2 separate regions of the Homo sapiens genome follow, and region 1 is linked to region 2. Evidence: fine-mapped QTL for protein levels in blood plasma. A gene starts in region 2. The other region holds a variant in brackets. All regions are shown on one strand. Distances are between the middles of the regions.

Region 1 (5,388 bases), 120 kb before region 2:
TTTGTTTTCTAAGACAGTTGATTAGTTTACAGTGACAGCAAAGATATGCTAAGGGCCAAGGCTTACTGTACTTTAGTTTGAATATATATTGTCTGGAAACATTTTGTTGTTTGAATTGGGAGGTGCTAGAAAGAAAAGTAAAAACATTTTGTATTGTAGTTATAAAATGCACTCTCATGGTTCTATATTCGCTTGATAACTAATGAGGCATCAAATACATTTATCATTTTTGTATGCTATGTTTCTTCTTTTGCAAATTTTCCCTGATTACATCTTTTATGTTGAGAATATTTGATCAAAAAAGGAAGCTACCTATATTGTGAATGATCTGGGATAAAACATCATCTTATGCGGGAGAGAGTAAATCTTGGTGTTCAATTCTCATGAGGTAGAATGTTCAATCCAAGAAAAAAAGCGCTGAGTCAGAGCTGATGTGCTACATGGTCATTGCCATGCATTGTGTTAAATCGTTGACTGACATTTAATTTTTCAATAACCCTGAAAGGTAGGTGGTGTCTTCATTATCCATTTGAGCCACTCTCAAATAAGTTGGACTTTTAAGAGAAACCTTGGGTTAAAAGTAGTAGAAGTAGCAACTGGAAAAAGGATAGTGTAGGAGAGATGGCTTTCAGTCTGCCTGAGGCTGCTTTGCCCCCAAATTTCTCCTCTCCATACTACCTTTGCTTTTCTACTTCATTAATTATAACATTGGAAATGCCACCAATTGCAGTTGTATTCTGCTTAAGAGTCAACCTCTCTTAAAATGTTAAAAACCCCTAGAAGGGATTTATTCTGGAAGATCTTGTGTTATTAGCCATTAATATGAGCTAATCAGACAGTTTTTTTGTGGGGAGGGGGAGGTTGTTTTTGTTTTTTTTAAACTCTGTGGGACATACCTATTCCTAGGGGTGGAGTGTTGGGAGGAGGCAGGCGAGGTTGCATGTGGGGTACAGGAAAGGAGGAGGAAGAAAGTTTCCTTCCTCTTTCTGGGATGTAGGGGGCTGGCCCGGTGCAGAGTTTTGACATAGGAAATGTTTGTCCTTGGCACTCTGCCATCTCCTTATTCATACTTCTACATCTCAAAACCCTACTCCTTGGCCGCAAAACCCAGCCCTCTGCTATGTGCATCCAACCATGACTCTCCACCCAGATCTGCCTTTCTTGTCACTAAGCGTTTCATCTTCTAAACACATCACCCTTGCCTACCTTCTCCCCACACTCCTCCCCAAGCTCCACCTTGCAGGATAGCTATGGCTAGCTGAGTCAAAAACAACAGCAACAACAAAAGCTGTCTTTTCATGCTTGCATGTTTTCTTAGATATTTAGAAGTTATATATATGTGGAGCAATCGGACCCTTTGGTAGTCTCTTCCTAATAAGCAAACTGCTAATGGCTCAGGATTTAAAAGACATACTACATAAATTATTTCCCCCTATGGAATAAATATGCAAGCTGAAAATAAACTACAGATCCTAATAGCCAAGCAGAAGGAGTATACTTGTCTAAGCGAAACATCTTCTATGTAATTTGGCTTGTCAAACAATGTGAAGTAGGATGAAAGCATCTTTACAATGTGCAGCTGGTGTGAGAGTGTCACACAGATGCTAATTGTTTGGCTTGGGTGTCTTCCATTTCTCATGCTCTACAGTGTCTTCTCTGATCAGTGGTGGCTTCTCCCCTCCGTTTCTTTGTTTATTGCAGAAAGCATCTCCACGGTAAAAAATGTGCAGCCTTTTATTTGTCTCCATTGGTTGGAAATCAACATGTACAAATAAAAAAGCTTTTTTTTCCCCGTTTTTCAAAATGACAACATTTTAAGTTAGATTTATTTAATCAGGTGCTATGTCCTTCTACTTCATGTTTCTCCAAACACTTAAAACTGTTGCTGTTCACCGAACAGGAAGAGTAACGTGTAGAGCCTGGTTACTGTTCTACAAAACACTGGCTTGATGATCAAAGGCCTTTCAGACTCCAAAGGCCTTTCAACACGCCAAAGTGAGGCAATCTCTAGTGAGTGGTGGGTAATATTTCCCGGAGAAGCCACAGTCCATATATAGCTCCCCTTAACCCTTGTTATATTTGCTAGCATTGTAGAGATCCAGAAAGAAATTTCTTTACTTGCTTCTCCCTGACTTTCTTTTAAATAATATTTGACCATTTAAATGGTACATAGAAAATGCACCACTTAACAAATACATAAAATTTAACAAATATGTAAAAATAAATAGGAAATGTTCATATCACACCTAACCAGAGATAAAACATATTAACAATTGTGGTATAGCCCTCTAATACTGTTTGTTGTTATGTACACATGTGTTTACCCAAAAAAGGGGTCATACTGTAGATTCTTTTAGAAACTAGCTTTTTATACTAAATGTATTAGAAACATTTTTCCAAGTCATTAAATATTTGTCTACTGTATCTCTTTTAAGAGCTGAAAAATATTCAATTTCATTGATATTATAGAATTGACTTTATTTTTCTCTTGTTATTGGACATTTAAGTTCTTCTCAATTTTTTATAATTTAAACAGCACTATAATTAATAGTTCTTTAGCTAAGTATATTCACATTCGCAGTTTGTTCCATTGTGTAATATAACAGCTTGGGGTCCTTCTGCAAGCAAGGCTTATGTGCAGTTCATTTATTTGGGAAGTGATCCCAAGGAGCCACAGTGAGTGAATGGAGGACTTGAGCTGGAAAGGAGGGAAAACCGGTTCATAGGTGCAGTACAGATCTGGCCATAGCTACATGTGACGGGACCTTTGAAAGCCTTATAAAATATGTCTCAGAACTGTCTTCTAGGAGAATACCAGGGGGAAGTATTTCTCTTCCTTTGATGCATTCTCCACTAGTCAAGGGTGGTCCCACAGCATTATTTCCTGCATGCTTCCAGACTGTGTGGGTATGAGCCCAGTGCATCACTGAAGGCCTAGGATAGGAAGCCAGAGAGAGGTATGGCCAGGGGCTGGGGTGAGGCCCTGTTACGTTACATCTTCAGAAAGGTGGTCAAAGCCTGCTTGGGCCTGGTTGCTGCAGTGGTGGGTTGGGCAAGAAGTAAGGCTGAGAAGATTTGTGGTAGGCTACAAGAAGTGTCTGGTACATATACATTCCTAGAAACAGAGCTTGTAATTTTGTCTCAAAGGACATGCACAATTGTATCTCAAAATAGAAATACACATGGGAGTCATAAAATTATGTTCAGGTTGATTCATTTATGAGGTACACATTCTGAGACCTGAGGATGTGGCAGGGGGTAACAGACGTGATCCTACTGCCACAGAGCTTACATTCCTTTGCAGGAAGACAGTAAACATGGGAACAAATACATAACATCAGTGCTGACAGCAGTAGGTGCTGTGAAGCAAATGAAATGGAGCAGTGCTGTTAGTAGTGACTTGAAAGGGACTGAGCCCATGGTGAGAACACCAGGGTTCTC[A/G]TGATTTTAGATGGCACACAGATAAACTGAGAGTGAAGAGACTCAGGGTTCGGTTGATGGAATAGAACTAAAGGAGAAGGATGTAGGAAGGAGGGGCGAGGGCCTCTTTACATTCACTGTCCGCTTTACATTTTTCCTAGAGGCAGATGTACCCAAGAGAGATATTTTGGCTTTTGGAGTGTGGCCTTCCCTCAGTGCATACACTATATGGAATTTAATCACTCTTAGATTCTTAGAAAATATTTTTAACATTCAAAATATATATCAAATTATAATTGCTCCATCTTTGATGTTTTGGAATATACTTAAATCCAGAGAATAACAAAATTTAGGGCAGAATTTTTTTTTTCATATCATACCAAGAGTACTGTATAGAAATCCAAGGTACTGCATGATGGTCTGTGCTTAACTATGACAAAAAAAAAAAAAAAAAAGGATCATAGAGTGCCTTGGGGTTATTTTTAATCAATCTCAGGGTTAACACTAGTGCAACTCTGCACTAGATGGAAATTTCCATTAGATGGTGGCTGGGGGTTTATTGTATCAATGTAATTCTACCTCATATGAGAAGCAGCACTGTTCAACTGCTCCTTTGCTTCAGAGAGCTCAGAAAATAAGTTTCAAAGACATAAATTTATTCATTGGACCTTTTAGTTACAATGCCCAAGATATTTTTGTGACCTAAATAGCAAATTAAGAAATCACCTCTTTACATTGCTAGGTGTTTCTCACATTTGTTACCAATAGTACAATGTATCTACTTCAGTAGAAAGTAAGCCAAGGGATTATGATAGCTCCAGATTAAAGCACATTCTTCATTTTCAGTGATATGTAAAACCACAGGATCAGAATTACATTAGATATTGAAAGACTAGAATATTAAATCTGATCTCCTAAATCAGGGTTTTCCAAATTCTGATCACTTGTAATCATTTGTGGGCCAGCTTCAGGATTTTGCTATATTCTACAAGTGCTGATGCTATTAAATTTTTAATGTTTTTCTCTACAGTGAGTCAATTTTTGCTTAAATAAGTTTACTTGAGAAGGAATGTTTATATTATTGTATTATTGAAATAAATGGAAAATAACTTAAAAAAATGTATTTCTAACTATGAACCTATATTCTTTTTTTTTTTTCTTTGAGATGGAGTCTCACTGTGTCACCCAGGCTGGAGTACAGTGGTCCGATCTTGGCTCACTGCAACCTCCGCCTCCTGGGTTCAAGCAATTCTCCTTCCTCAGCCTCTCAAGTAGCTGGGATTACAGGTGTGCACCACCATGCCCAGCTAATTTTTGTATTTTTAGTAGAAACGAGGTTTTGCTATGTTGGCCAGGCTGGTCTTGAACTCCTACTCCTGACCTCAAATGCTCTGCCCACCTTAGCCTCCCAAAGTGCTGGGATTACAGGTGTGAGCCACCAAGCCTGCCCTGAACCTATATTCTTAACTATTAATGCAAGAAGTTTATCTGTATGTCATCTAAAATCATTATGCACATTTTGGTTAGTACCGCTCTCATAGCAGGCTTGGCCTGTCCCATACCAGGTGTGTGACCTTTAGCAAGTTACCCAACTTCTCCTACCCTCTGTATTCGCTTGTGTATGATGGAGATAATGAGATATTATTGTCTGGCAAGTGCTTAGCACAGTGCCTGATGTAGTAATTACTCAGTAAATGGAAGTAACTGCAATAATGCATTGTTGAAGTGGTTGTTGTCTTTATTATTCTTCATGAAAAGGACAGTGTTGGAGATTTAGAAATTATACAAATACTTCCATTCTGCACCTAAATTTGGGGTTGAAGGTATTAGAACAGTAGACCAAAGAGCTGACCAATTTGATTATATCCCTAGCTTTCCATGACTCGCTGTATGACTTGGTCAAGCCGTTTAACCCCTCGAGGGTGTGGTTTCTTCATCACACAAATTAGAAGGTTTGATTTGATTTGA
Region 2 (5,388 bases):
TAAGATGGGAGCTGCAGTCTTTTTAATAACCTAATTTTGGAAGATCATCTCATTACTTTTGCTGTGTTATGTTCATGAGAAAACCACTAAGTCCTGCCTACACTCAGATGGAAGAAATTAAGTTTCATCACTTGCAAAGGAGGAGTATAAAGAATTGTCCCATCACAACACTATATGATGTCATGCTACTGCATATCTCTTCCTAACACTGTATTCAGTGATACAACATTGGTAGTTTGAAATCAGCCATGGTGGGAATATTTAAACCATGGAAATTAGCAAACATTCTAAGTCAGACTTTTCCCCCCAGACAGCTGACATTTACCAGCACACATCAGGATGAATATAGAGCTATGTGTTCACAAAATTTTTATGAAGTAGACGAATTTTAGGAAGGGCTTTGAAAGAAGGAAATAAAATATTATTGATAAAGAAAAAGATAGTTTCTTAATTTAAAGATAATAGAGGTGAAGCAAGAAGTGGAGGGAGACCTAGGGAGTTTAAATATGCTCTTATGGATGCCTATAATGACATGAAGAAAAAGCAGCTCTTTCTTTCTCTTTTTGTTTCTTGTGTGTGCATGTGTGCACATGATTTGAAATGGAGATTGCATACTAAATTTAACTATGTGTACACACATTAAAGACTTGGCATACAAGATTTTTCTTTAATCCAGCAATCAGGATGGGTATATAATCTTTTACATAATTGCCTATGAAGCCACAAACAAGTAATCCATACGCCAGTAAAGTTGATACAGCTGACCTATACCTAAAATAGCTCAGAAATTCAAAGACCAAATTTTAGTTCATTTGAACTGATGCCTTGGTGTATGTAGTACGACCAATAATATGTGAGGAGTGCCACCATTTATCAAATGAGCAGGAATTCACTTCAAAAAGAAAATTTCCAGAATCATAGCATTTTAGGTCTGAAAGAGACAGTGGGAAACCTACAGTACATTATTTCTCAAAATGTCTTTGTCAATCAAACATCAACATCAGAAATGACTGGTCTTCTTTTTAAAACCTAGAAGCTTGTTAATACCTGAAACCCACCCCAGACCTGATGAATTCATAGGGGCTTAAGAATCTGCACATTCTATAAACTCTCTACATGATTCTGTTGCAAGCAAACGTTAGAGAGTGAAAAATCCAAACCTTTTATTTTATAGATTAGGGAAACAAACAACTAAGCTGTAAAAGAGAACCCCCTGCCCAACAAGTGAGACCACATAGTAGGCATGATTTTACACATTACAATTTTTTTTTCTCCAAAATAAAATTTTTTAAATCCAGCAATCAGGGTGGATATATAATCTTTTGTATAATTGCCTATGAAGCCACAAACAAGTAATACATATGCCAGTAAAGTTGGTACAGCTGACCTACACCTAAAAATAGCCCAGAAATTCAAAGACCAAGTTTTCATTCCAAAATTTTTTATTTTGGAGAAAATAGAACGCATATCCTTTGTTCAAAGAGACAGCTAAGGAACAACACAGGACTTCAATGAAAAATATGTTGTTTATGTGTGTAGTTACTAGTCAGTATGCCCCACCTAGCCACAAATTAGTGTGGTTACTCTAAATTGCTAACATGAAAATCTTAACCTCCTACTTCTGAAGTTATTTGGTTTTAGCTACTCAATTTTTTTTTCTAGGCTTCCAAGGTTGCTGTTTTGGGCATGGTTTTAGAAATATAATTATAAGTTTGATTTCAAACTTCTGGACCATGTAATCAAGCACAGACTGGTCATAGTGGAAAATATACAATTTTTAGCTCTGCCTACATTGACAAAAAAAAAAATGGCTGGATCCACATCAATTCAACTTGAGTGCCATGTGTTTACAGTGACAGTTTCTCCCCGAAAACGCAAAAAAAAAAAAAAAAAAAAAAAGAAGATCCATGCTGCTGTAGTATATGTACATAGGGGTGTTTAAAGCCAGCCCCTCCAGCAGCACCTTACCAACCATGTCTGTGCTTTTATTTATTGATCCAATAAGATGACTTAAATATCTAACTCCTTTTCCACGTAAAAGTTTTTATTATGTGCAATGCATTGTTAAACAGGTGAAGAATGAACAAGTTTAGAAAAACAAAGAAGCTTAACATGGAAAATTACCCGCATGGTGTCCACTTTTCCTGCTCGGTTGCAATACCCAATGGATTATTTATTAATTTAGATTTGTGCTGTCCCTGAATCCAAACAGCAGCCTCTTTAGAGTAACATCTGCTCCAGACATTGCTCCAGGAATATAAATCCCGACTAAGGGGTGGATATTTAAAGCTGTAAATGATTTTTTATTTTTACAATAGCTTTGCAAAAGGAACGGAGGTGTCATGTCATCATCAGAGTTTTCTTAACAGGATTTAATCTTAATGCCAAACTAAATCCTTTGTCTAAAGCATCAGCAGAGTTGTACTTATTTTCCCCATAGTATTAAAGAGGAGGGCTGGTGCAGGCACAGCCATATGACATTGCCTTATTTATTTTGTCTGTTTGTTTTCTGGAAGAATCTAGGAATGTGCATAAATACAATTAAGGACAGTATCTACAAATTGGAAGAAAGCATTTCTATTCTCTTAAACCTCTAAATCAAAGCACTTAATGTTCTGATTTCCAGCAAGACCTTCTAATAAATGAAAACCCAACCCTTGGGTTTGTGTTTTGACTCTTGATACAATTATGAAAGACGCATCAGGAGATGGCAAGTGGCTGCCAGTACTTCCTTTTTTCTGGAATATTCTCTAATTCTTGGTGGATCAAGATGGAAACTGGTAGGCTTGGAATAGATGTCCCTTTAAAAGGCTCCACTAACAATACAAGAATATTTTTTCCATACGCAGTGACGTGGGTGGGTCATGGGTGTCTCAATGACAGTAACGTTCCCGAACCCCGGACCTTAGCTGTCATTTCACCTGCGTCGTCCCGGACGCCATTTGGCTGTTGACGTGGTTCCGAGCCAGCAAATAACGCCAGCAGCCCTCCCAGATCCACGCCGGCCCGTCTCTCCGCCGGCCCCCTCCTCGCAGTGGTTTCTCCTGCAGCTCCCCTGGGCTCCGCGGCCAGTAGTGCAGCCCGTGGAGCCGCGGCTTTGCCCGTCTCCTCTGGGTGGCCCCAGTGCGCGGGCTGACACTCATTCAGCCGGGGAAGGTGAGGCGAGTAGAGGCTGGTGCGGAACTTGCCGCCCCCAGCAGCGCCGGCGGGCTAAGCCCAGGGCCGGGCAGACAAAAGAGGCCGCCCGCGTAGGAAGGCACGGCCGGCGGCGGCGGAGCGCAGCGATGGCCGGGCGAGGGGGCAGCGCGCTGCTGGCTCTGTGCGGGGCACTGGCTGCCTGCGGGTGGCTCCTGGGCGCCGAAGCCCAGGAGCCCGGGGCGCCCGCGGCGGGCATGAGGCGGCGCCGGCGGCTGCAGCAAGAGGACGGCATCTCCTTCGAGTACCACCGCTACCCCGAGCTGCGCGAGGCGCTCGTGTCCGTGTGGCTGCAGTGCACCGCCATCAGCAGGATTTACACGGTGGGGCGCAGCTTCGAGGGCCGGGAGCTCCTGGTCATCGAGCTGTCCGACAACCCTGGCGTCCATGAGCCTGGTAAGGGCGCTGCCCCCTGACAGCCCTGGGGGCATCCCGGAGGGGGGCGGCAGAGGGTGGGACTGGTGGCGGTGGGGGAAGGAGGGAGGGATGGGCCCAGGGGTGCCTCTTGGTAAAAGGTATCTAAGGTGGAAGGTGGGAAGTGGAGGGAGGGATGGAAATGGGGAAGAACCCGACTTAGAGCGCCAGTGGCCCAATTTCTGCTTTCCCGTCCCATCCCCCCAGCACCAATCCCATCTCCCCAGACCTTAGGCCACCCTCTAGTAAGTATAGGCTTGGGAGGCTGGGGTGGCGGGGGATGGGGGGGATAGCAATACAGAAAAAACAAATCCTGACGCACGCAACCCCAGCGGTCGCTCTCACTTTGCTGTGTGAAAAACCCAAAGGAATGATTGCGAGTCCCCCGCAAGGGGGGTTGGTCTTCCTTGCTGACAAGAGTAGAAAGATAAGGTGCAGAAGGCAGTGATTGAGAGGAAAGGAGAACGAGGGAGAAAGAGTCATTTATCATGTTTTCTCTAATTTCCAGAGGACCAGTTTATTGGCTCTGTGTACCCATCTCTACCTGTGTGTGTATACGTATTAGGTACACTCGCTGCTGTGGATGCTTGGGGAATCTTAGGGATATTGCCAATCTGGGGTGGTGGTGTATAAAGATACGTTGGTGCCCCTCCTCCTACCAGGGTGAAAAGTGGTTTCTGACTTTTGAAACCAGATTTTGAAACTGCACAAGGCCTTTCCAAGGAAAAAGGAGTATTCCATTTTCTCTGCTATAACCATTTGAGATGAATAGTTTGTGATGGGGTCTTTATTCCAACTGATGTTCCCAAATAACCATCTGTATTCGTCTTTCCTAGGAGTATATTAAAGCACCTTTTGGTTTATGTTAATTGTGATGCATTTAGTATTAATAAAGAGGTATTTAAAAATGTTCTTGGGACTTTTTTCGTTATGTTTCTGCTTAGGAAATAATTTGGGCCTGGTCTTCTGATAATCAAGGTACAGCTAAAGTAATCTGTGCTAATAATATCAGCATGGGATGGATGCTTAATTTTTGTTTAATGACAAAGCAAGCAAGAAAAGTAGGCTAAAAATTCTCAGTGCAGGGCCAGTATAGTTTTATAATGATACGTAAGAACCAAACTGAGAAGAGATTAAAATAAGTGATCAATAGACATTTTGATCTTCAAATATATAGTAGGTGGGTTGATCAAGAATAAATCTTCAGGAAATATTTCTTACCTTCAAATAATATAAGAAAAAAAGGTTCATGTAAGTTTGCTGTCAAAATTCTAAGATCAGATCCTAGAAAACATTTAATATTAACTACTCTTATCTACCAGGATTCAGCATGTAGGATTGGACATTTTGAAACTTAGTTTCATACTGTTATCTGAAGACAGGGAAAAATTTAAAATGTGATAACTGATTTTCAGCTAAATCCAATAACCAAAGCCAAGATATCCTAGGCACAGTTAAAGCTAATGTAAGTATTTGTGAGTCTCCTGCTGCTTACTTAATGAGAACCCTTTGTTACTCTATTTTGTAGATTGATCCCAGAGTTTTTTGCGTTGTTACTTCAAGAGATTATATGAAAGCTAATGTTTAACTTTTTGTTGTTTCAAATTTGGAAATAAAATTTTAAAGTGATATTACAGTTAGAATGTGATATGCTTTAGAAAATGAAAACAATGATTTCTTTGCTTAAGTATCTGGAATATATAGTTCATCAAGGTTTGCAAATCCTTCTTTTAGATTGCAAGCTGTATGAAGTGGGGACCCTGATTCCAGCACCCAGCT

Alleles and levels. Alleles are on the strand shown, and positions count from the first base shown. The strength of an association depends on the size of the effect and on how common the allele is.
For the plasma level of the protein whose gene starts at base 3,071 in region 2, allele A in region 1 goes with a lower level than allele G (weak association).

The links. A credible set is the group of variants that fine-mapping cannot tell apart. PIP is the posterior inclusion probability: the model's chance that the variant is causal. Protein levels are from antibody-based Olink assays in UK Biobank. Linkage for the fine-mapping came from a reference panel and not from the study's own genotypes, which makes the PIPs less certain.
Region 1: its variant is the best candidate, but not a certain one, in a credible set for the plasma level of the CPE protein (UK Biobank, PIP 0.85).

What each region holds. Positions count from the first base shown.
Region 1 is chr4:165,254,539-165,259,926 of GRCh38, forward strand. All of the region lies in intron 4 of KLHL2 (kelch like family member 2), which reads left to right. Among named protein-coding and RNA genes, the nearest start is that of GK3, 22 kb to the right of the region's middle. The variant A/G (reference allele first, on the strand shown) is at 3,442.
Region 2 is chr4:165,375,938-165,381,325 of GRCh38, forward strand. It overlaps CPE (carboxypeptidase E), which reads left to right and starts at 3,071. Exons shown (of 9, transcript NM_001873.4): 1 at 3,071-3,591. The coding sequence starts at 3,285. RefSeq lists a silencer at 3,104-3,363 and an enhancer at 4,843-5,387.